Linked DNA regions of Homo sapiens. The protein of the gene in region 7 interacts with the protein of the main gene of each other region in a pairwise test. Each region holds a gene or a part of one and is shown on either strand. Other genes may lie near its edges.

What was found.
Region 1: the proteins of OTX1 (region 7) and INTS11 interact in binary tests that used the Homo sapiens proteins (3 or more experiments, as listed by UniProt).
Region 2: the proteins of OTX1 (region 7) and SLC15A2 interact in binary tests that used the Homo sapiens proteins (3 or more experiments, as listed by UniProt).
Region 3: the proteins of OTX1 (region 7) and LASP1 interact in binary tests that used the Homo sapiens proteins (3 or more experiments, as listed by UniProt).
Region 4: the proteins of OTX1 (region 7) and RGS20 interact in binary tests that used the Homo sapiens proteins (3 or more experiments, as listed by UniProt).
Region 5: the proteins of OTX1 (region 7) and RGS19 interact in binary tests that used the Homo sapiens proteins (3 or more experiments, as listed by UniProt).
Region 6: the proteins of OTX1 (region 7) and CH25H interact in binary tests that used the Homo sapiens proteins (3 or more experiments, as listed by UniProt).

The regions. Positions count from the first base shown.
Region 1 is NC_000001.11:1,314,661-1,318,160, reverse strand, and holds part of INTS11 (integrator complex subunit 11), read left to right. Parts: intron 1-2,542; coding exon 2,543-2,641; intron 2,642-2,722; coding exon 2,723-2,757; intron 2,758-3,198; coding exon 3,199-3,337; intron 3,338-3,500.
Region 2 is NC_000003.12:121,921,901-121,925,400, reverse strand, and holds part of SLC15A2 (solute carrier family 15 member 2), read right to left. Parts: intron 3,182-3,500; coding exon 3,099-3,181; intron 2,627-3,098; coding exon 2,540-2,626; intron 2,362-2,539; coding exon 2,272-2,361; intron 2,180-2,271; coding exon 2,135-2,179; intron 1,051-2,134; coding exon 1,018-1,050; intron 457-1,017; coding exon 368-456; intron 1-367. UniProt on the Homo sapiens protein: Proton-coupled amino-acid transporter that transports oligopeptides of 2 to 4 amino acids with a preference for dipeptides. Transports neutral and anionic dipeptides with a proton to peptide stoichiometry of 2:1 or 3:1.
Region 3 is NC_000017.11:38,876,558-38,880,057, reverse strand, and holds part of LASP1 (LIM and SH3 domain protein 1), read right to left. Parts: intron 1,973-3,500; coding exon 1,878-1,972; intron 1-1,877. UniProt on the Homo sapiens protein: Plays an important role in the regulation of dynamic actin-based, cytoskeletal activities.
Region 4 is NC_000008.11:53,887,372-53,890,871, reverse strand, and holds part of RGS20 (regulator of G-protein signaling 20), read right to left. Parts: intron 1-3,500. UniProt on the Homo sapiens protein: Inhibits signal transduction by increasing the GTPase activity of G protein alpha subunits thereby driving them into their inactive GDP-bound form.
Region 5 is NC_000020.11:64,072,681-64,076,518, forward strand, and holds the end of RGS19 (regulator of G-protein signaling 19), read right to left. Parts: intron 1,862-3,838; coding exon 1,787-1,861; intron 1,699-1,786; coding exon 1,464-1,698; intron 1,365-1,463; coding exon 1,173-1,364; 3' UTR 501-1,172; downstream 1-500. UniProt on the Homo sapiens protein: Inhibits signal transduction by increasing the GTPase activity of G protein alpha subunits thereby driving them into their inactive GDP-bound form. Binds to G-alpha subfamily 1 members, with the order G(i)a3 > G(i)a1 > G(o)a >> G(z)a/G(i)a2.
Region 6 is NC_000010.11:89,205,129-89,208,511, reverse strand, and holds CH25H (cholesterol 25-hydroxylase), read left to right. Parts: upstream 1-1,194; 5' UTR 1,195-1,219; coding exon 1,220-2,038; 3' UTR 2,039-2,883; downstream 2,884-3,383. UniProt on the Homo sapiens protein: Catalyzes the formation of 25-hydroxycholesterol from cholesterol, leading to repress cholesterol biosynthetic enzymes.
Region 7 is NC_000002.12:63,056,081-63,058,331, reverse strand, and holds the end of OTX1 (homeobox protein OTX1), read right to left. Parts: coding exon 2,016-2,251; 3' UTR 501-2,015; downstream 1-500. UniProt on the Homo sapiens protein: Probably plays a role in the development of the brain and the sense organs. Can bind to the BCD target sequence (BTS): 5'-TCTAATCCC-3'.

The DNA.
Region 1 (3,500 bases), on a different chromosome or scaffold from region 7:
CGGTGGCTCACGCCTGTAATCCCAGCACTTTGGGAGGCCGAGACAGGCGGATCACGAGGTCAGGAGATCGAGACCATCCTGGCTAACACGGTGAAACCCTGTCTCTACTAAACAAAATACAAAAAAATTAGCTGGGCGTGGTGCGGGCGCCTGCAGTCCCAGCTACTCGGGAGGCTGAAAGGCAGGAGAATGGCGTGAACCTGGGAGGCGGAGCTTGCAGTGAGCCAAGATCCCACCACTGCACTCCAGCCTGGGAGACAGAGCGAGACGCGAGACTCCGGCTCAAAAAAAAAAAATTTATTTGCCTGCAAATGGATTTACTTTATCCTCGTTCTTAAAGGACTTTTTTTCCCTTAGGTGTGTAAGATTTTAGGTTGACAGTATTTTGTCTCTGCACTTTGCAAACAACGTTCTGTCTCTGGGCATGGGCAGCCGTAGGGTCTGAGCAGGAGCCTTGGTTTTTGGTGCTTGTGCTCTGATGGGCTGACATGTATCCTCAGCCTGTTTAGAGTTTGAGGCCTCTTGGATCTGTGGCTTGAGGCCTTCATCATGTTTCTTCCAGTGTTGTTTCTGCCCCGTTCCTGCTCCTCCAGGGACCCCGAGAGCCTGACGTTCAACCTCTTGAAACTCCGTCATCTGTTTGTCTTTCCTGTTTCCTGATGGATATTCCCTCTGGTGTCTTTCAGTTCATGGATTCTCTTCTGGTTATGTGTCATATGGTGTTAAATTCATCTGTTGAATTCTTTTTTTTTTTCTTTTTTTTTTGAGATGGAGTTTCGCTCTCATTGCCCAGGCTGTAGTGCAGTGGTGCGATCTCAGCTCACCTTGAACCTCCGCCTTCTGGGTTCAAGCGATTCTCCTGCCTCAGCCTCCCGAGTAGCTGGGATTACAGGCGTGTGCCACCACACCCAGTTAATTTTGTATTTTTTTTTAGTAGAGACGGGGGTTTCACCATGTTGGTCAGGCTGGTCTTGAACTCCTGATCTCAGGTGATCCACCCGCCTTGGTCTCCCAGAGTGCTGGGATTACAAGAGTGAGCCACTGCGCCTGGCCAAAATTTTGTTTTTAAATTAGCCTGGCGTGGTGGGTGCGTGCCTATAGTCCCAGCTATTTGGGAGGCGGAGGTGGAGGCGGGAGGACGCTTGAGCCCAGGAGTTTGAGTGAGCCATGATTGCGCCACTGCAGCCTGGGTGACAGCCCCACCCTGTCTCTCAATTTTATTTATTTATTTTTTTTTGAGACACAGTCTCGCTCTGTCGCCCAGGCTGGAGTGCAGTGGCGCGATCTCGGCTTACTGCAACCTCCGCCTCCCGGGTTCAAGCAGTTCTCCTGCCTCAGCCTCCCGAGTAGCTGGGATTACAGGCGCACACCACCACATCCGGCTAATTTTGTATTTTTAGTAGAGACGGGCTTTTTCCGTGTTGGTCAGGCTGGTCTTGAATTCCCAACCTCAGGTGATCCACCCGCCTCAGCCTCCCAAAGTGCTGGGATTACAGGCATGAGCCACCGCACCCGGCAAGTTTTAAATGAATAAATTAAATTTAAAAGAAGTCTAGTTTTTTGCCAATTTTTGTTTTTGACACTCTCGCTCTTGTTGCCCAGGCTGGAGTGCAATGGCACAATCTCAGCTCACTGCAATCTCCGCCTCCCGGGTTCAAGTAATTCTGCCTTAGCCTACTGAGTAGCTGGGATTACAAGCACCCACCACCATGCCCAGCTAACTTTTGTATTTTTAGTAGAGACAGGGTTTCACCGTGTCGGCCAGGATGGTCTTGAACTCCTGACTTCAGATGATCTGCCCACCTTGGTCTCCCCAAGTGCTGGGATTAAAGGTGTGAGCCACTGTGCCCAGCCCAGTATTTTTTTGTTTGTTTTTACCGAGATGGAGTCCCGCCCCATTGCCCAGGCTAGAGTGCAGTGGCGTGATCTCAGTACACTGCAACCTCCACTTCCCAGGTTCAAGCGATTCTCCTGCCTCAGCCTCCTGAGCAGTTGGGATTACAGGCACGCACTTCCACACCTGGCTTACTTTTGTATTTTTAGTAGAGACGGGGTTTCACCATGTTGGCCAGGCTGGTCTCCAATTCCTGACCCCAAGGGATCCACCTTAGGCCTGGCCGCCAACATTCTGAACCTTGTCTTTTCTCTGTCATGTATTCAAAGTCCACGCTGGAAACTCCAATTTCAGGTCCCTTCAGTTTTTTGTCCGTTGTCTTTCGTTCTTTGTCCACGTTGCCCGTCCCTTGTGAACTGGATGCTGTGTGTGAGCAACAGGGACTGAAAAGCTCAGTGCAGTGCCCTCGCTCCCCGCCCCGCCTCCCTCCCTGCCCCCGCCCCCCTCACTCCCTGCCCCTGCCTCCCTCGCTGCCCGCCTCCCTCCCTCCCTCCCCGCCCCCACCTCCCTCGCTCCCGCCCCCGCCCCCTCGCTCCCCTTCCCCCACGCTCCCCACCCCCGCCTCCCGCGCTTCCCGTCCCCCGCCTCCCTCACTCCCCGCCCCTCTGCTGTGAGGACACAGCCTGAGCGCAGCCCTGTCCTCCACAGGTAGATGATGAGCTGGAGATCAAGGCCTACTATGCAGGCCACGTGCTGGGGGCAGCCATGTTCCAGATTAAAGTGGGCTCAGAGTCTGTGGTCTACACGGTCAGTGGAAGGGCTTGAGGCTTGGGAGGGGCTGCTGGGGTGGGAGGCACCCTCCTCATGGCATCCTTGATCGTTCACCAGGGTGATTATAACATGACCCCAGACCGACACTTAGGGTAAGTAGGCTGAGGTGTCTTTTTGTCCCGTGGGCCCCCCTGGAGCTCAGGACCCTTGCAGGTGTCAGGGTGCCAGCCCTTGAGTGGCCAGCCTGGCAGTGTCTCCCATGTCCTGTGCGGCCTGGAGAGCCCCCTTCGTTCTGGGCCCAAATGCGCGAAGGCACAGGGTCCAGGCAGGGGCCTCTGTCCCTCCTTCTCTCTCTTCCCAAGTCTCTGGGTGGGTGCCTCTGTCTCGCTCTTCCGAAGTGTCTGGGTGGGTGCCTCTGTCTCTCCTCTCTCTTCCCAAGTGTGCTGCCCACAGCATTTTACCAGCTGGCTCTTTCCAGCCAGAGTGACCTAGGAAGGCGGCTGGGCGTGGTACTGGGGTCCAGCTTGTCACACCCAGCCCTGCAACCGTGGGGACAGTGCATCGTGGCTCACACCCCCACCCCCGTGTTCCAGAGCTGCCTGGATTGACAAGTGCCGCCCCAACCTGCTCATCACAGAGTCCACGTACGCCACGACCATCCGTGACTCCAAGCGCTGCCGGGAGCGAGACTTCCTGAAGAAAGTCCACGAGACCGTGGAGCGTGGTGGGAAGGTAGCTGCAGCAGGGGTGGGGACATGGGCCCTCGGCCATGCTGGGCTGGTCTTTCTGGCAGGCTTGGCTGCCCTTGGCATGGGTCAGGGTCTCAGGGTGGGGGGTACTGCATTTTCAGGCAGGGAGGGAAGAAGATTTGCTCAACATTGAGGAGGAAAACTCA
Region 2 (3,500 bases), on a different chromosome or scaffold from region 7:
TTTAAAGGGATTAGTAGTCATCAAAGGCCTTGAGTTTCTTTGAAGAGACAACATTCAAGAACAAAGAAGAAAGTTGGTTTAGGAGCTAAATTTCACATATTTTTGGTTTGGCATGAAACCTAGACCTGCCCCTCCACCACCATTACACAGTTAAGTCCACAGTAATGGCTTTGACTCTCATTAATTATATCTAATTCACATTTTTCAGGGTCAATAGGCAGTTAGTCTAACATGGAAAAATAGAAGCAGATAGATGATAAACTAAAACCAATCCTCACTAAGAAAAATACTGACATTGAATCTTTTTCAAACTGGGCAAAGACTGAGTCAATTTAGAGTAATCCATACAGACATAGTGAACACTTACGAGAAGTTAATTCCACACTTGGAGACCAGACGATAAATGACAAAGTCAAACAACGGGATGAAGATAAGAACCAGAAGGGGATTTAGAACCTGTAACACCATGATAAAAAGGATTAGCTACAAATATTCTCCTATCATGAGTGTGAGCACTGCACTCATTTGCTTGTTTACACTCTGTCTCACATCTACACACACTTTTGTCATTGTAAGTACAGAATGACTCCACATTCCTCAGTCCATTTACACCCAAGACCCTATTTCCCTTGCATAGCATTTTAGCTTTCAAATATCCCAAGGGACAAGTTTCACTCTGAGCCTGTCTTTCTGCCAGCCTTATTGTGAGCTCTTTCCTCTCATGACTTCATTGCTCACAAAATAAGCCTTACAATTTCTTTTACAAGATTTTGATTATACTATCTTGACTTGGAAAAAAATCCAATGCTTACACTTAACCCGTTGCAAGTTAAGTACTTAACAGGGGATGTGAAGGAGAAGGGTGGGGCTTAATGGGAATGTTTTCATGTCGAAGCTTGGCCCTTATCAGCGTACAAGGAGAAAAGCATCAAATTATGGTTGTTAATCGTAATACTGCAGGTGGAGGCATAGATAAGGAAACAAATAAGTCCCCATGGCTATAGAAGAGTCACATACCTGCATCTGGTCCGGCTGAAGCACAAAAAACCCCTGAAACATTTTAACAAATTAATTTAGTTGATGTCTGAAGAAAAGAAAAAAAAATGTTGGCCTAGATCAATAATTTTGCTAGTTAGCAAGTGAGAAACATATGAGAGAAAATTCATCAGGTCTTTGGTTCAGGGCCACTATTTTGCTGTTAAGATTATTTGGGGGATGGGAACAGACTTGGGAAAGCTTCTGGCTATGTTTGCCAGGCAGATGGGCCTAAGGGAGAAATTATTTTCTATGTATTATGCTTTCCTTAACTTGAAAGAGAATAGAGTCAGTGCATTTTTATTGATCTCAGCAACTGCAGTTCTAGGTTGTAATAATATGAAGGGCAAGACATCATGGTTAGGGTGAAGACTCTCCCTGACACATAGTGTTTCCAAAGTTGTTCTCCAGAGGGTCAACAAGAAGACCACCATGGTAAATAAGAGACAGCCAGAGGAAGGGAAAAGGTAAAATTATATTTTGCAGGCTCCAAATAGACTGACTAATAAGACCCTGGTATCATTCTACTCTGTCTTTTCAAAAACTGAGAAGATAGAAAAATAATACACTAATCTAGGAAAAGAACAATTGAGAGTAGAGATGGTACCTTATTTGAGTGGGCTAAAGAATGGAGTTTGGAAAAAGAGAAAATAATACGTATAACCTTCTCATTCTTTCCATATCCATACATACAAAATATTCCATTTCCCACAGGTCCCCTGCTGTGATCCTTGTTGAAGAGATAGACCAATTGCGTAGTAGTGCCACTCAAACCTGTCCCTGCTGTACTCTGGGATAGGCTTAGACAGAAGAAAATCACTATCCCAGGTTACGCATCACATCATTTGCTAGCCTCTCAATACTTCCTTGTATACATTGAAACTTTCTCATCCTTATGTTCCTGATTTCTAAAGAGAAGATTCTGGTTTTTATTTCTAAACTAGCTTTCTTTATCTTTGCCTACACGGTACCTTCAGGCTAAAAGCACTTCTCTGAAGATCTTGTTAGTTTTCAGGCAAAATCACAAAGAAATTAATTTTTCCCCAATATGGATGATGAAGAAAATAATAGACTTCTCTGGAAAATCTCTTCTACTCACCAAATTCCTATTCATCCTGATGGCTTGCAAAGTCCATCGTGAACCCTAGGGCAAACAGATCCTGTTATGAGAAATCCCTTTCCTGTGAGAGGGAAGTGGCTGTAAGGAGCGGTAATGTCCAAAAGAACTATTCTTACCTGCTGATCCAAAAGAGCCCAGAACATGGGCAATGGGATATAAAGGAATAGTACCCTGGTCAGTGCCTTTACATCCATAATGAGCTGCTTCTGCGAAAAGGAGGAAGAATGGGCAGAAATGCTAGAAGTTCTGTACATGGCTTTCTTGCTTAAAGTAGAAGTGTCCAAAAAACAGTAGAGAGGAGGTTGAATGCAGTAGGATAGAATCATTTTGAACATTAGGAAAGACTCTATCAAGCCATAAGATGTTTCTGCATTTCCAACTTACTGGATATTTCTCAGCCGCCCAGTCTAGCCAGTGCTGTCGCTTTGGAATGTCTCCAGAACGGTTCTTGAAACGATTGGAAATAGCAAACTAGGGCAGAGAGTAGACATCATGGGAGAGACAAAGAGAAAAACATCCTCTGCCTTTTCCAACTTATTATACCTTCCTTCAAACACCATACTTCTAGTGACTTATTCCAACTCTTTGACCTAATCAGGCATTGAATTTCAGAATATTTCTGATATAATTTTATCTATCACTTTAAGAAAGAACTTGCCATTCAAAACAAAAAATAACAACAAAAAAGAAAAAATGTTATCTGTCTATATATAATTACATTTCAGAAGATTTTTGCCAACTTAAAAAGATGATTACTTTTTTTAACTTAATGGTTAAGTAGAGGCATAAGAAGAAGACTGGTTAATCTTAGCTTGTTAAAAAACATGAAAATAGAATAGAGGTCATTGAGAAAAATGTATGCCCACGTTTGAAGGCCCATATTCTCAGCATAGCATCTCTTTCTTTTGATTGAAAAAGGCAAGAAAACAATTTATGGACTTACCCAGATACATTTGAAAACTTGAGCCACTATGTTTCCTTCAGGGGGTGGTTTATTGTATATTTTGCTTCCCATTGCAAACACAACTGCAGTTGATACACAAACAAGGTTCTTAGCTTCTCATTTATTAGGTTGGTGCAAAGGTTATTGCAGTTTTGCCATTACTTTCAATGGCAAAAACCACAATAACTTTTGCACAAACCTAAATAGCACATTCAGTATATCAGCGCTAAGGACAGAATGCTGAACTGTGGGAGTGGCTGGCAAATCTCATAAAGAGGGAGCTGACTTACATTTCCTGACTTTTGGAGTTATCAAAATTGCAGGAGCCAAGAGAAGACAAAATGGTATGTTGTTAAGAGAGATATCTATTGAGACTTTCATGTAATCACAGAAGTGGAAGTC
Region 3 (3,500 bases), on a different chromosome or scaffold from region 7:
AAGAATTCGAAGAATGTCCCATTTCCCTTGTGGGGGTGGGAGGGGTTGGTAGGGGGAAGAGGAACAGTAGAAATTAATAGAAGAGAAGGGGCAGCTGAAGGAGGGGCCAGGACAGAGCTGCAACCCTTCCTTTACCCAGATAACCTGCCCAGTGCCCTCCTTCTTCCAGAAGGGACAACTTCATGTTGCTTCTTGGGCTTGAGATTTTTATCAGGAATCTGTTTTCCCAGCACCTGGTGCAGGTTAGTATGTATTATAGCAGCAGGCAGGCAATAAATGTCTGCTGAATGAGCGAGCCCCTAAAAAGATGAAAGAGTGGTCTTAGCCAGGGAACGGGAGGGGGTAAGGAAGCAAGGAAGGTTTGGGGTAAGGTTAGGGGTAAGGCTGGAGGTTTAAGCCCCCTTTTTAGACAAGTCCCAAATTTTTTTTTCCCTGGGTGAACTTCAGCTGCAAAGAGCCTCCTGACTGAGAATTAAGAGAAAAAAAAAAAAAACTGGACTCAAGTCAGATCCTAAATTCATGTGAACACTGAAATTACCATTACTTGAGTTGGTTGAAGTTAAAAAAAAAAAAGTTAAAATTAAAAAAAAAATCGAATTAAGGCTGGGCGAGGTGGCTTATACCTGTAATCCCAGCACTTTGGGAGGCTGAGGCGGTGCATCACTTGAGGTCAGGAGTTCGAGACCAGCCTGGCCAACACGGTGAAACCCCGGTCTCTACTAAAAAATACAAAAATTAGCTGGGCATGGTAGCATGCATCTGTAATCCCAGCTACTCAGGAGGCTTAGGTACAAGAATCGCTTGAATCCAAGAGGCGGAGGTTGCAGTGAGCCAAGATCGCGCCACTGCACTCCAACCTGGGTGATGAGTCCTCTGACTCAAAAAAAAAAAAAAAAGCAAATTAAAAGAAAAAGAAATTATCATTACATCATTACTTATAAGTGACTTGACCTTCCAAAGCCTCCACCTCGCAGGTGGAGGCGGCTGTGAGGCCCCAACACTGAGTTTGTACTTGCTACTCACAAGGTCAATTGGAAGATGGAAAATTGCTGTACTTTCTGGGATTGCATGGGATGGGATGGGATGGGATGGGAGGGGAGGTATTCCTCCAGGCTCTGGGATGGGGGACCCCACCTCTATACTCCCTCCCTACCGTCAGCTGCTGCAGGTCCCAGTGCAGAAGGAACAGAGCTGCACTATACTCAAGATGACTATACTCAAAAGAAACAGTCTCCACAGCCTCCCTCACCAGGCAGGGAAGAGATCTATCTGGCCCAGGCAACACCCTTTATGCACCCCTGCCCATTCTCAAAAAATGAACACCAAAAGGGCTGGCATGAGGCTTCCAGAGAGTTTTCTTGAAGGAACCACTGGAGGAAGGAGCCCCCAAAGCCTAGAAGTACCCAGGTGAGAGAAGGAAACTGTCGATTTTGAGGAGAGAAATAAGGGAAGGTAAACAGAACAAAGTCCTCAACCCCAAATACAACAGACACGTCACTCATTCTTGAAAGACCACGAGGAAAGCCCCCTCTTTTGTAGCAGGGGACAGTGGAAAGAAACGTGCTCGCCTTACTGCCCGAAATTGGGTTAGAGCCTGTCTTGCCCTAGCCATCCCACCTTGAGAGTCTCTTCCCTTCCCTAAGCCCCAGTTTCCTCATCTGTACTTTAAATGCACTTTAAATGGGGGATAAAAGCACTTTAAATGGGGATAAAAAGTGCTTGCTTCATTCAGCTGTTGTGAGGACAAACTGTGATGTTCAAGTAGGGGATGGAAGTGTTCGCCAATGTCACCTTGCGGTTATTGGAAGGAAAGGAAGAACTCACTCGGGGAGGGAGCCAAGGTGCCCACCCAGCCCCCTGCCCAGAACAGGACTCACGCGTTGCAGTAGGGCTTCTTCTCGTAGCCCTTGTAGTTCTTCATGTTCAGTGTCATCTTGCAGGTCTCGCAATGGAAGCATGCTTTATGCCAGAACTGGGGATGGAGACAGGAGGACATACATCAGATACCAGGACTTCTGAAAAAGGGGCTCAGGCCCTAGGAAGGGGCACTCAGGAGCTGCTGGGACTGTCCTAGGCCCATGGCTGTGGGGAGAACATGGAATCATCCCAGGTGAGCTGGGGGCATTTCAGGTCACAGGCTTTGGCACTCCCCTCCCCTCTCTCCTTCCTCATCCTCCACCAATGGGCCATTTGAACCCAGGAGGAAGAGACAGGCAGGCATGAAGGACAGGGGGGAAGAGCCCAGTTATAGCAGTGGCAGCAGCCCCCAAGTCAGCTCCACCCTCCCCAGGGAACCCCTCCTGCCCAGAGCTGGCGAGGCCTCATTGCTTATGCAAAGCTGCGCTGGGTTGCTAGGGAGCAGCCGCTGAACATGAAGGAGCAGCTCCTCTGGTGGCACCAAGGCCTCAGAAGAGGAAGGCCCAGCCCCCACACACCCAGGCCCAGAACCCAGGTGCTCCTAGCTCCTGTACCAGGGCCCAGCACACCCACCAGCCCCACATGAGCCCCAGGTGGTGCTACAGCTCCGATACCTCCCACTTCCTGTGGGATGCCTGGCCAGAGGAGTGGGCTGGGTGTCCCAGGCTCTGTCAACACAACACATCCTTTCTACCCTTCCCTCATCCTCTCCCACCCCAGGAGGAGGGCAGGAGAGCACCCGGCAGCGGGTCTCCCACTGAGGCACTGAAGGGCTCTACTTCAAAGCCTTGAAGGTGGACACCCCTATAGTGGACATCAAAGCTCTACCCCACTAACTGTATGGCCTTGGGCGGGGCCCTGCACCTCAGAGGAGCCCACTTCCTGGTGTGTACAATGGATGTAATAACACCTGGCCCTCCTGGGATTGTCCAGGACTGAGGAGAAATCACCTTCAAAGCCCTCAGCACAGCACTTGGCACCTCTGAGCACTCAGATGTCAGGTGCTGGGCACAGCAGGTGTGAACCTTAGCCGAGGGGGTCAGGGCTCACACTGGAGATTGTGTGTGTTGGGGTGCAGAGGGGCTTCACTGTGCCAACCACAGCTCCAATCCATTCATGCGTGTGAGAATGTGGGACACGGCCGGGCACGGTGGCTCACGCCTGTAATCCCGCACTTTGGGAGGCCGAGGCGGGCGGATCATGAGGTCAAGAGATCGAGACCATCCTGGCTAACATGGTGAAACCCCATCTCTACTAAAAAGACAAAAAAATTAGCCAGGCGTGGTGGCGGGTGCCTGTAGTCCCAGCTACTTGGGAGGCTGAGGCAGGAGAATGGCGTGAACCCAGGCCACTGCACTCCAGTCTGGGTGACAGAGCAAGACTCCGTCTCAAAAAAAAAAAAGAGAATGTGGGACACAGGGCCCATCCAGGGTGGCCGACGGAGGGAAGAGAGTGATGACAGAAAGAGAACAGATCTAGCCGGGAGCGGTGGCTCACGCCTATAATCCGAGCACTTCGGGAGGCTGTGGCAGGCGGATTACTGGAGGTTGGGAGTTCAAGACCAGCCTGGCCAACATGGTGAA
Region 4 (3,500 bases), on a different chromosome or scaffold from region 7:
TAAATCTTATTAAAACTGCAGCCACCAGTCTGGGTAACATAGCGAGACCCCATCTCTACAAAACATTTGTAAAAAATGGTCAGGTGAATTGGCAAGTGCCTGTAATCCCAGCTACTCAGGAGGTTGAAGTGGGAGGACTGCTTGAGCCCAGGAATTCTAGGTTATAATGGTGCCAATGTACTCCATTCTAGGGGTGACAGAGGGAGATTCCATGTCAAAACAAAAAAACCCCCAAAACTGTTACCAGATCTGACCCATTCTAATACCTGCTGGCCTGAAGTGATCAGCCCTTCAGTCCTTCATCCTTAGACAGGAAATCCCTCCAAGGGAGATTCAATCCTTGCTGGTGGAAGAAATTACCAGAACCTACACAGTTTCTTTATATACAATGTCTACATATAATAAAAATTACTAGATATGTGAAGAGAGATAAAAATGTGATGAATAAAAAAATGGATACAGGCACACAGATGATCTCATTGGATTTAGTAGATAAGAATTAGATGGACTAAACTGATGAAAAGATGGGAAATTTCATCAGATAATTTAAATGTATTAAAATGAATCAAATTGGCATACTACATTTAGAAGAAAACAAGTTCTGAAATTAATAACTCACTAGATGATTTGACAGAAGACTCAGGCACAGAGGAAGACAGCTTAATTAACTAAAACACAGGTCAACAGAAAATATTCAAATTGAAGCAGAAAGATATGCGAAATGAACAAAACAGATCAGACAATAAGAGACATGAAGGAAAAAGGCCAACATATCTGTGATTTGGGTCCCAGAAGCAGGAGAGAAAGAAAGAAAACCAGACAAAGCCATATTTGAAGAGATATTGAGTGAAAATTTTCCAAAGTTGATGAAAGACGTCAATCCACAGATAAAAGAAGCTCAGTTAACCCAAAGGAGAATAAATAAAATGAAAACCACATATAGGCACATTATATTCACTGTGGTAAGTCAAAAATGAGAGAAAAACTTTATGAGGATAACAACAGGCTACCTTCAAAGAAGCATAACTTTCCAACAGAAACTAGGAAAGTCAAAAGATAATGGAATGAGAGTGTAAAGGCAGGCCAGACTGGAAGAAGAGATTTGCAGCACGTGCACACACACACACACACACACACACACACACACAGAATTTTGACAGATGGCTTGTATCCAGAATATATAAAGAACTGTGACAGATCAATAATAACAATAATAAAAGATCAGCGGCACAATAGAAAAATGGGCCAAACAGAAGTTCAAGACCAGCCTGGGCAACATGGTGAAACCCCATCTCTACCCCTTCCCAATATCCAAAATAAAAAAATTAGTTGAGTGTGGTGGTGGACACCTATAGTCTCAGCTTCACGGCTAATTGTGCCACTGCCTTCCAGCCTGGGCAACAGAGTGAGACCCTGTCTCAAAAAAAAAAAAAAAAAAAAAAAAAAAAAAAAAAAAAAAGAGAGAGAGAGAGAAAGAAAGAAAGAAAAAGAAAAATGGGCCAAAGGCTTGTAGAGGCATTTTAAATAGAAAATATACAAATGACTTGACCCAAAAACATATAAGAAGATGCTTAACATCATTAGTAGCCAGGGAAATACAAATTAAAACCATAATGAGATACCACTACACAGCCACCAGAATGACTAAAGTTAAATGGGCAAACAATACTAAGTACTGGTGAGGATGTGAAGCAATACACACTTTGCTGGTGGGGATGGATGTAAACTGATTTGGACTATGAAACAGTTTTGCAGTATCTACTAAAGCTAAACATACACTGGACTTATTACCCAACAATTTTTATCCTGGGCATATACCCAAAGGAAATAAGTTCATCAAAAGACATGAATGAGAATGTTCATATTAGCATTATTCATAATAGCTCCACACTGGAAACAACTAAAATTTCTTCAGTAGTGGAATGGAATACACTGTGGTGTATTCACACAAAGGAACGCTGCACAGCATTAAAAAATAACAACACGTACAACAACAAATGAATCTCAAAAACATAATGCTGAGCTAAAGAACCAGATGCAAATATTATACACTGTTTAATTACATATGAAGTTTAAAAGCAGGCACAATTGGTATATGGTGAAAAAAGTTATAAAAGTGGTTACCTGTGGGAGTGAGTCCTGAATGGAAGGAAGCGAGACGGAATCTTTGGGAGAGCACGGGGGGCTGAAAATATCCTATATCTTCATCTAGAGCCGTGGTGAGTGATTTTGGCCCCAGAGGACGCTTGGCAATGTCTAGAGACATTTTTGGTCATGGCATCCAGGGAGGGGCGCTACTGCATCATGCAGTGGGTGGAGATCAGGGATACTGCTAAACATCCTACAGGGCAATGGACAGCCCCCCTCAATAAGGAGTTGTTCAACCCCAAATTTCCACAGTGCTGAGGTGAGAAACCCTGATCTAAATGGTGGTTCTGTGGGGGTACACTTACATAAAGTTTACTAAGCTGTACTCTTAAGATGTGTAAACTTTACTGTAAGTTATAACTCAAGTAAATGAAGTTAAAAGCTGTCATAAACCTCACAAAAATACCAAATAGCTCCTCACTGAAACCTAACAAACACAGAAAAACTTTGTTTCAGTTTTAGAAATACTCTAATTCATTAAACAGTCCTAACAACTGAAATTTGCGGGGATTATAGTAGGTCAGGAAGAATTAAACTCTGTATGTAAAGTCCCCCTTAAATGCAAAGAAATATCTATACCTTTCTTTATGGCAGGAGATATATGAATTATATCTGGGTAGTCACTAGAAATAAGTATTTGTAAAAACACAATGAATGTATAATGGAAGACCCCATACATGTAAGATTCTTCTGGAGTCATCAAAAGATGAATAGAGAAAAATATACATATACCTTTTTTTTTTTTAAGTCAGGGTCTCACTCTGTTGCCCAGGCTGGAGGGCAGAGGCAAGATCATGGCCCACTGCAACCTCAGTGTCCCCAGGCTCAGGTGATTCTCCAGCCTCAGCCTCCCAAGTAGCTGGGACTACAGGTGTGCACCACCACACCCAGCTAATTTTTTGCATTTTTTAAAGAGACGGGGTTTCACTATGTTGCCCAGGCTGGTCTGGAACTCCTGGGCTCAAGTGATCCACCCGTCTTGGCCTCCTAAAGTGTGGGAATTACAGGCGTGAGCCACCACGCCTGGCCACATGTACTTTTTAACAGTAGTCTAATCTGAGTTCTCTGGATAATGACTTCCTGTCATTAATTATCAACATGACTTTTATACAAATTAAGAAATCTATGGGCGTGTGCTCTTGGGCTGCTCTCTGGCCAGCACCCTCTCCTGTGTCACCTCTCTTGTGTCCACAGTCTAACCCATCTCTTCATTTCCCTCAACCTCAGGTGGAGCCTCCACCAAAATGCAGATTTTTCCAAAAATCCTTACAGGGACGATCATCACCCTAGAGGTTGAACCCTTGGATACAACAGAAAAATGTAAAGGCCAATATCCAGGATAAGGAACGAAT
Region 5 (3,838 bases), on a different chromosome or scaffold from region 7:
GGCCCTGAGCCAATTTCAGCTTCAACTCACTTAACTTCCCAGAAATGCAGGGGATGGGCTGGTGAGCACTCAACTCATGGGGCCTGTGAGATGAGAAAGATGACATTGGGCCTGGCACCAAGTGGCCCCTCCTGCCCCAGCCAGCCTGCCTCTGGGGACCCCGTCCGGCTGGGCCTGGGCGGCACCTCCTGTTGCCTCTCGACTTCTGAGGTGCTGTGGGTCACTGTTCTGGCCCGACTTTCAGCTAAGGAGGCTGAGGCCGAGGGCGTGGAGCTCATGCCCCGGGCAGGGTTAAGCACAGCCACCCACTGGGACCACTGTTCTGAGGAGGGGTCTGGTGGAGGCCAGGGCATGGGAAGAGGGCAAGCACACGGCTGTGTGTCCCCTCCAAGGGGCACTGGAGCCCCTGCCCTGGGACAAGGACACTTCTCCCCAGCCCTGAGTCTGGGGCCACTCATTCTCCAGTCTCTCCCCAGACTTGGACAAAAATGAGTAGAGACTTTGCTTTAAAAATATCTTCAATAATAAGACATCCTATTTTTGGGGGGTTAGGGATAGAGATAAATATGAAAACTTTTTTTTGATAAAACACCTAGTAAGGACATGTTTCCAGGTTTAAAGTTCATGAACATATAAAACAGAAATTGGGTCCTGCCACCTTGAGTGCAGGATTCTGAGGTCCTAAATCTGGTTCTGAGGTTCTGTGTTTGATTCTGGGGTACAGACAGCTCAAGTAGGAGGTCTCCTTATGTCACAAAACTACACGATGCGGAGGTTCTGTTCCCCACCAAAGGCTTGTCTGGGGCCCATTGGCTGCCTGGGGAGGAGGCCCCAGCGAGGCTCATGGGTCCAGCATGGCTCCTGGGGGGACCCCTACTCTCACCACGCAAGAGCCCCCAGCCAGGAGCACTGGGCCAGCCAGCTGCGGGCCGATGAGGGGGCTTCTGGCCCGCCCTGCACCTGGAGGCCCGCCCTGCACCTGGAGTTCCTGCTTGGCCACGGGTGGGCAGACCCAGGAGACACAGCACTCCCCACTGGGTCTAGGACCGTCTCCGCGGGTGGGGACCCCAGCCGGCCAGGCATGTGCCCTGACAGCCCTGCCGACAACAACACCTGAAGGGAACCCAGAGTCGGCCGTAGGAGGCGGCGGGGTCTGTGCTGCTGGGGGCGGCCTAGGCCTCGGAGGAGGACTGTGATGGCCCCTGCAGCAGCAGGGCACGGTAGGTGGGAGAGCTGAGGAAGCGGGGGTAGGAGTCCCGGTGCATGAGCGTGTAGATCTGCAGCTGCGCGTCGTCGAACGTGTGTGCGGACGGCTCCTGCATCTTCTTGTTGATGCCCTCCCGCACACGGGAGTCCAGGCTCACCTGCAGGACAAGACACTGAGGTCAGGGGGTGCGGGAGCTGCCTTCCCCACCTAGTGCCTGGAGCAGGCGGCCCCCGGCCTGTTCTGGTGTCTGGCGCACCTCCTTGGGGGACAGGATGGATACGTAGTCCTCGTAGATGAGCCTCGCCTTCTCGTCTACCACATGCTGGTTGGCCTCGGCCTTCAGCTCCTCGCAGGCCAACCAGAAGAGCATGTTCTCCTCGCTGTACTCTGTCCGCAGGAACGCCCGGAACACGCTGCGTCCCGCTGGGCTGTGCATCAGCTTGTCAAAAGACTGCGCCCAGCTCTGCACCTCCTCAGGACTTGGCGTGGCACTGTGGGCACGGGGGCCAGGCTATGTCAGGCCCGAGTCTCCCGGTCTGGGGCCCCCCCAGCACGCACACACCAGCCGGCTGGACTCACCATACTTCACAGCTGGGGAGGGGCTGCAGCTTGCTCTCCCGGGAGGCCTGCCACGCGCGCCGCCGCTCTTGGTTCCTAGTGGCAGAGAGGAAGCAGCGCTGCCGTGGGCACACACGCCTCCACGGCCACACAGGCCCTCAGCACATGGGCAGGCACCTGACACACATGGGCACCCACTGCAGGAGGGCAGCCCCTGCAGGCACCTGACACACATGGGCACCCACTGCAGGAGGGCAGCCCCTGGAGCTGGCTCTTCCCACACTCTCCCACACTCCCAAATTCCCCACAGAATCTGCAGTCCAGGTTACTGTCCCTGCCACAGTGCCCAGACCACAGACTCTGCCGTCTTCCATTCCAGCAGTGTGACCCAGTGCCCGCGAGTCTCTGGCCTTCCAGGAGGGGCCCTTCGGCTCCTGGTGTGCTCCTCCCCATCCCTGGCCCACTGGGCAACCTCCTCCACCCACCCATGCCCACCCCACATGAGGTTGAGAAGCAGGTATGCCACCTCCCCTTCTGCCTCTGCTCCCCTGGGGGAGATGGGGTGGGGCAAGATGAGGGGCCACAAGGAGCTGGGAGATCCCTGAACACCTGGGAGGCCAGAAGGGTCATGTGCCTGGGAACAGGGCCACCCATGGGAATGTGCCTGGGAACAGGGCCACCCATGGGAATGTGCCTGGGAACAGGGCCACCCATGGGAATGTGCCTGGGAACAGGGCCACCCTGCTCCTGGGCCTGATCTTGGCCTGTCCCTGTCCCACCGATGGGGTCACACGCTGCAGGTCTGGCGTGTCAGCAGTGTCTCTCGTCGGCTGACGCAGGTGAGAGCCCCAAACCCGTGTCCACACTCCTTCAGGTTCTGGAGCCTGATCCCCGGTTGTCTCAAGGGAAGCAGCTTCTTTGCCTTGGCTCCTAGCATCCTGTCAGTGCTGGACCCAAATCCATACCCGGCTGACCTCTCTCCAGGGCACTTGGATGGCTGGCAGACATCGTGCACCCAAACGTCCTGACAGAACTAGGCCCCTGGGCTCCTCCCACCCCCTTTCCCGACTGCCCCCTGGCCACCCCCAGCTTGCCCGTGGGTCAGCTGACGCCACCTTGGATCCAGAAGCGCTGTCCTCTCATCAGCCAGGGCCTGAAGCCTGAATAGGGCCAGGCTTCTGCAAGGTGTGAAAACATCCACCAGCTCCCCTACACTCCTAGGAAATCTGTTACCATCTGGGAGCCCCACTCCCACCCTCACAGGGATGCCCAGAGACGTCCCCGCCACCGCCCCCTGCTCTTCTTCCCCCACGCATGCTGTCCGGGAAGCTCTTGGCCATCGCCCCAGGGCCAGCAGTTCCCTTATTGGGGTCTCTGTTCAAACGTCCCTCCACCCCACACACTGTATGGGGTCTGTGCCTGTCTTTCTTTCTTTCTTTCTTTTTTTTTTTTTGAGACGGAGTTTTGCTCTTGTTGCCCAGGCTGGAGTGCAATGACGCGATCTCGGCTCAACGCAACCTCCGCCTCCCAGGTTCAAGCCATTCTCCTGCCTCAGCCTCCCGAGTAGCTGGGATTACAGGCATGCGCCACCACGCCTGGCTAATTTTGTATTTTTAGTAGAGACAGGGTTTCTGCACATTGGTCAGGCTGATCTCGAACTCCCGACCTCAGGTGATCCGCCCACCTTGCCCTCCCAAAGTGCTGGGACTACAGGCATGAGCCACTGCACCTGGCCTGTGCCTGTCTTACTCCACCGCAGGCCCCCAGGGCCTAGCCTGGGCTGGCTCACAGCAGCATGGATAAAGCACATGCCGCGTGAACGGGCACATGCATGTACACAGCACACGGACACACCCTTGGCAAGACAGGTACGAGAGCCATACATGAGCTCCCTGGGGCCAAGGCACCGGCCACTCATCACCAGGGCCCAACAGACCCTGGACAGGACAGTGCTGTGAGGTGGCAGGGGCATCCTGCCTGCGGGGATGCCTCGGAAGCCACCACTGGGTCCCCTCCTGGGTCTGCTTGGCCCCATGCCCTCGACCCCCTCGCCAGCTGGGCACCCCAGGCCCT
Region 6 (3,383 bases), on a different chromosome or scaffold from region 7:
CTTGTGCTCGGTGGCCCCTGGCCCGAGGACCCCAGATGGGTGGCGGAGAAACGCAGGGGATAGAGACTAGCCCCCTAGCCGGGCTCCGTGGGCCCGGAGTGGATTCAAGGACCGGTGGCAGAGGGCGACTGCAAGTTGGCCCCGCAAAGCCAACAAGGGGAAGGGTAGGGTAGTGACGACATCACCTGGTCCTTCAATAGCCTCCCGGGAGGCTTCAGGAACTCACATCTCTTTCCCTTGACGAACAACGCAGGTGGTTTGCTGAATTAAGTGTTCCCGCCCCAAATTGAGATACAACGGGCTTTTTAGCCAGATTGGCGCAGACTGGGAGTTAAATCCAGCATTTTCCCGGCAAAGCTGAGCCTGGCCGCCGCGGAGCCCTCTTTCCGCTGTGCGGTGCCTCCGGCTCCGATCGCGGGCCCGGCGCCCCGGGACGCGCCGCCGAGGGTAGCTACGCGGCCGGGCTGCGGCCTCTCCCGGAGAGCCTGCGTGCGTGGTCTCTCTAGCTTGCTGCCCGCCGGCCAGGAAAACTCTGGGGACAAGCTGGAGCTGGCGGAGGTTCCCATCCGGCCACCCTTCCCGTCTGATTTCCTGAGCTGACGGTCACCGCCGGCGTTCGGGGACCAGCGGTTCCCTGTGCAAAGGGCTCGTTTCTCGATCGCCGCTGGATAGACCGCAACCGGGTTCTCAGAAAACACCCGAGCTACAGACCGCATGTAGCTTTAAACAGTTTTTAAAATGCGATTATGCTTGCGTCTTTATGAAAGCACATGGATGCAGTTATACGTATGCATTAAAAAACACAAACAATTCTGCATTGATTGCAAAGGAGCGCTTTCTGGTGGCAATGTAAACGGTCTAGTTTGAGACCCGTGATGACACACGTGAACTGAGTTGCCAAACTCATAGAAACTCCACACGGTAGATCTGTACATTGTGTCCCGTGTTAATTGTACGTCAACTGAAAAATCAGAACTTACATGAAAAGTACGAAGTGCCACTGCATACACGCATATCTAAAAGCCGGTAAGATGCGGCTATAGATGAGCACATTTACAGCAATGAAGGGCCACTCTGCCGGGTTGCTAGCTTATTCAAGCTTCGCATCGCCGGGAAAGGGATGGAAAGGCAGCTGACATCACTCGGGGCGGGGCCGTGAGTCCTGTGAAAAGTCGATGGGACTCGAGCAGCAGCCTCAGCTGCCTTGCACAGCCTCGCAATGAGCTGCCACAACTGCTCCGACCCCCAGGTCCTTTGCAGCTCCGGGCAGCTGTTCCTGCAGCCCCTCTGGGACCACCTGAGGAGCTGGGAGGCCCTCCTACAGTCGCCCTTCTTCCCGGTCATCTTCTCCATCACCACATACGTGGGCTTTTGCCTGCCCTTCGTGGTCCTGGATATCCTGTGCTCCTGGGTGCCCGCCCTGCGGCGCTACAAGATCCACCCTGACTTCTCGCCATCCGCGCAGCAGCTGCTACCTTGCCTGGGGCAGACCCTCTACCAGCATGTGATGTTTGTGTTCCCCGTGACGCTGCTGCATTGGGCCCGCAGCCCGGCCCTCCTGCCCCACGAAGCTCCCGAGCTGCTCCTGCTGCTGCACCACATCCTGTTCTGCCTGCTACTCTTCGACATGGAGTTCTTCGTGTGGCACCTGCTGCACCACAAGGTGCCCTGGCTGTACCGCACCTTCCACAAGGTGCACCACCAGAACTCGTCCTCGTTCGCGCTGGCAACGCAGTATATGAGCGTCTGGGAACTGTTTTCTTTGGGCTTCTTCGACATGATGAACGTCACACTGCTCGGGTGCCACCCGCTCACCACCCTGACCTTCCACGTGGTCAACATCTGGCTTTCCGTGGAGGACCACTCCGGCTACAACTTCCCTTGGTCCACTCACAGACTGGTGCCCTTCGGGTGGTACGGGGGTGTGGTGCACCACGACCTGCATCACTCTCACTTTAACTGCAACTTCGCTCCGTACTTTACACACTGGGACAAAATACTGGGAACGCTGCGGACTGCATCTGTCCCAGCGCGGTGATGTGGCTGCGGTGGGTGCCCCTAAGACTCGGGACTGCTGTGCCTTTCACACTTGAATGAAGAGAAACACCTGAGCTATATATTTTTTTAAAGCAACTAACTTATTGCTTTATGTTTATCTATGAAAACCATAGATAAAATCTGATGCATTTTTGTAATCTGACAAAGTAATTTACATACTGTTTGTGTATCAATACAATTTTGTGTTCTTGGTATTCTTAGTCTAGCTCACCTCAATAGCCTTGAATCCTGCATATGAATTAGACATTCATCACTGGCATATTTAGAATATCTCTAAAAGGACTTGTTTGTAGAATAAGGAATTTTCTATGTTTCAAAGTGTTCTAAAACCTGGCTAAAAGAATGTATTTTTGTGGATGGTGTTGACTTCTGACTCTAAAAGCAATCAAACATGTTTCTGCTGGACAGTGACCAAGAATTATAGTACCTTCTTATATTTTTTTATAGAACTGTATATTTATTTTGAAAGAAATGTTATTCGTGCTTTAAAAAGGAAAAAAAACCATGAATCAAATAAGTATTGACTTCCGTTTCACTGGTATTTTGACTGATAAAAAAGGGAAGAGGGAGCGGGCATACCAAGTGTCCTTCTAAGCCTCCATCAGCCTCACCATGGAAAGAGAGGAATCTGGGTGTAGGGTGTTCTGTTGGGGGTTGTTAGAGAAAAGGAGGCAGGAGAAGGGGCTCTGTTTGTTGTGCTCTAGCAATTTCATGGAGGAAAAACACGCTAATATTCTTAATGCTTTTCAGCTGATTTCTGTATAACAGGCAAATGATAGGATTACTCTGTAAAGTTTCATAGAAAGATTAACGCTGAGCAGTCAATCATTTTATTATTTGTGGGAATGGATTAGGGGAAGAACAGAATTGGAGGCGTGCCTTGCTTTGCAAAACTGGTGAGTCAATAGTATACACTAGAGTGGCTGATAGATGTGCAAGGGGATTCTGAGGAAGCCCCTGTTTTCATGAATCCATCCATAGCTACTGCAAATGAACATCAAAGCATTGCTTCTGAAATCTGGAATTTCTGTATATTCAGTTTTCTTAATTAAAACATACATGCAGCAGGTACAGCCCTTTCTAAAAGAAAGATAAAGTGAAATTTGGCCCTGGATCCCTGATTCCTCATGTGGAAAAGGAGGAGGTGTCCCAGATGTTCTTGCAGATGACAGTAAATATTCCTATTATTAACCACACACCCATCACCCATCACTCACCCCATCTAACTCCTGCCTATTCATTTTAGTTTTGTTTTTGGAATATATATAGTGTAGAGTTAAAAATCAAGACAATTTAGACACAATATAAAGAATGGCAGCTTTGTG
Region 7 (2,251 bases):
TGTCTGCTGCCAACATGCAGGACACGGATCAGTTTTTTGTCGTTTTGCTTTCTTTTCCTTTTTGGCTCAGCTCTGAGAGCATTACAGAGCTATCCTTTCCCGCCTCCCGACCCTCTTCCCCTCCCCCTCTTCTTTCTGGTGCAGGCAATTAGGGTGAAGAAATCAGTGCCAGGCTCCTGCCTCTGAAGAGAAAGGAATTGCTTCGGGAATTGAGTCCTGACACCTGTCTCTGTCCTGGATGGCGAGGGGGGATGCGGGGTCAAAACGCCTGGGGGAAGAGGCCAGGCTGACGCGGAGGGGCGTGGTGGGGGTGGGGGGAGACACTCCCTAAGCGAAAGTTTCTGGGGACTTCTCTTGCCAAGTCCTCCCGCCTCATCCTTTGGCCTCCAGCTTCACGCAGGTCATTAACACGCGGGTTATTAACACGGAGTTTCCCTCGCTTTTAGCCCCCCGAGACCAGGACCTCGGGCTGGAATCAGAAGAGCAACACTGACAAGCCGTTCATTAATTTGCATTTATTTTCGGGAAGTAATGTAGATAAAGAGGAGGAGGGGGACTGCCTTACATTTCAACAAGTAATTTGTGATCTTCACATCAGACAAATCAAATTTACAAATTACTTTCCCACCTACTGGACGAAGCGGCCAAAGCCAAAATTGATACACAGGCGCGCGGGCTCTCCGCAGATTTCGGAGAACGAAGGTGCACTAAAAACTCACTAGACAAAACAAGGGTGTTGAAAGAGAGAAGCCGACAGAGGAGTTGGAACTGGGTTTGGGGCCTGGGTTTGTTTGTTTTTCCCTAATGCTGTACTTTTACGGATTTTGTTTTGTTTTGTTGTTTTGTTCCCTGGTTTTGGTTTTCTTGTTTTAGGTTTGTAAACTGGAACTGCGACCCTGTGCTTAGACCGGGTGAGGGGGTCAGCCCTGCGCCCCTGCCCAACCCCCACCTCTGTACCCTGACTTGTCTGTTTCCTCCACACTTCGGATATCCCGCGCCCAGCTTCCTGAAACCAAGCGGTTCTCTTCAATAAATACACAGAGGGAGAAGATGTGAAGAGGGCAGGGCAGCTTTGCAACAACTGAAAAAGAAAAAGCGCCATTGATTGAGGAAGAGCAGAAGGGGGACGGACAGAGGGAAAATATTTTTTGCTTTTGTTTTTTATATATGTGTATATATATATGTATATATATATATATGTGCTGTATATATCTTAAAGTTCTGTTTCCTGGGTGCTAAGACAAGATATGTTCAGTTCAACCAACCAACAGCAACTAAAAAGTTTAAGTGGTCCCTGGAACGGACCTGACTATGTACAGCGTTCCCGCCGAGGCGGAAGCTTGAACCAGTCCAGCGCAGGGCGGGGCGGGATGCGGCTCTGTGCGCGGAAGGCTGGGGACGCGCTCCTCCGGCGGGCCTAGCCCTGGCGCGCCCCAGCGCACTCCGCTGGGGCGGAAGAAACGCCGGGAGGCTCTGGCCGGCAGGCGTGGAGCAAAATCGAGGGCAGCTGAAGGGGCAGCAGTCTGCGCGGGAGGAACTCTTAGTGGTTTTGATTTGGAGTAGTGTGCGGGTGCTCCAATGGGCAGAAACACGCCAGTTAGTGACTCCAGTGTCCAGAAAGAATAAATTAAAGTGTTGGGCTCAAACAGCGGATCAGAGCGCAGAGCCTCCGAAGGCTGCAAGTGCTTAATAGCTGTCCAGAAAGACTGGAAGGGGAGGCTTAAGAGTTTAGTAGGGGCTGAAGGGGGGAAATAATACATCTCTCCTGTATAGAATGTGTAGGCCAAGCCGAAGCACCGGTCCCCCCATCCAAGGGGCAGGGTGGGTTTGCACATCCCCCCAAGCAAGTGGCACAAAAATGGGGGCGGCAGTGCAGGCAATGGACATCTTTTTGGGGGGTGAAAATTCAGTTTTGGAGAAGACGAGGCAAAGGCGGGCGGTGCAGCAGCAGCAACAGGATCGGGACCACGGAGGGCGCAGGTAGTTGCGTTTCTTCTCCTCTTTCATTCCTGGGCTCACAAGACCTGGAACCGCCATGAGGCTTGGTCCTTATAGTCCAGACAGTCGGGGGAGTTGAAGTTGAGTTTCCAGGCGGAGGAAGCAGCAGCGGCGCCAGGCTCCTTGTAATCCAAGCAGTCGGCAGAGTTGAAGGCAAGCCCAGAGCCACCGTAGCCTTGGTGGTGGTGGTGGTGATGGTGGTGGTGGTGGCCTGAGGACTGGCTCAACGGGTGGTGCGCATGTGGGTGGTGAT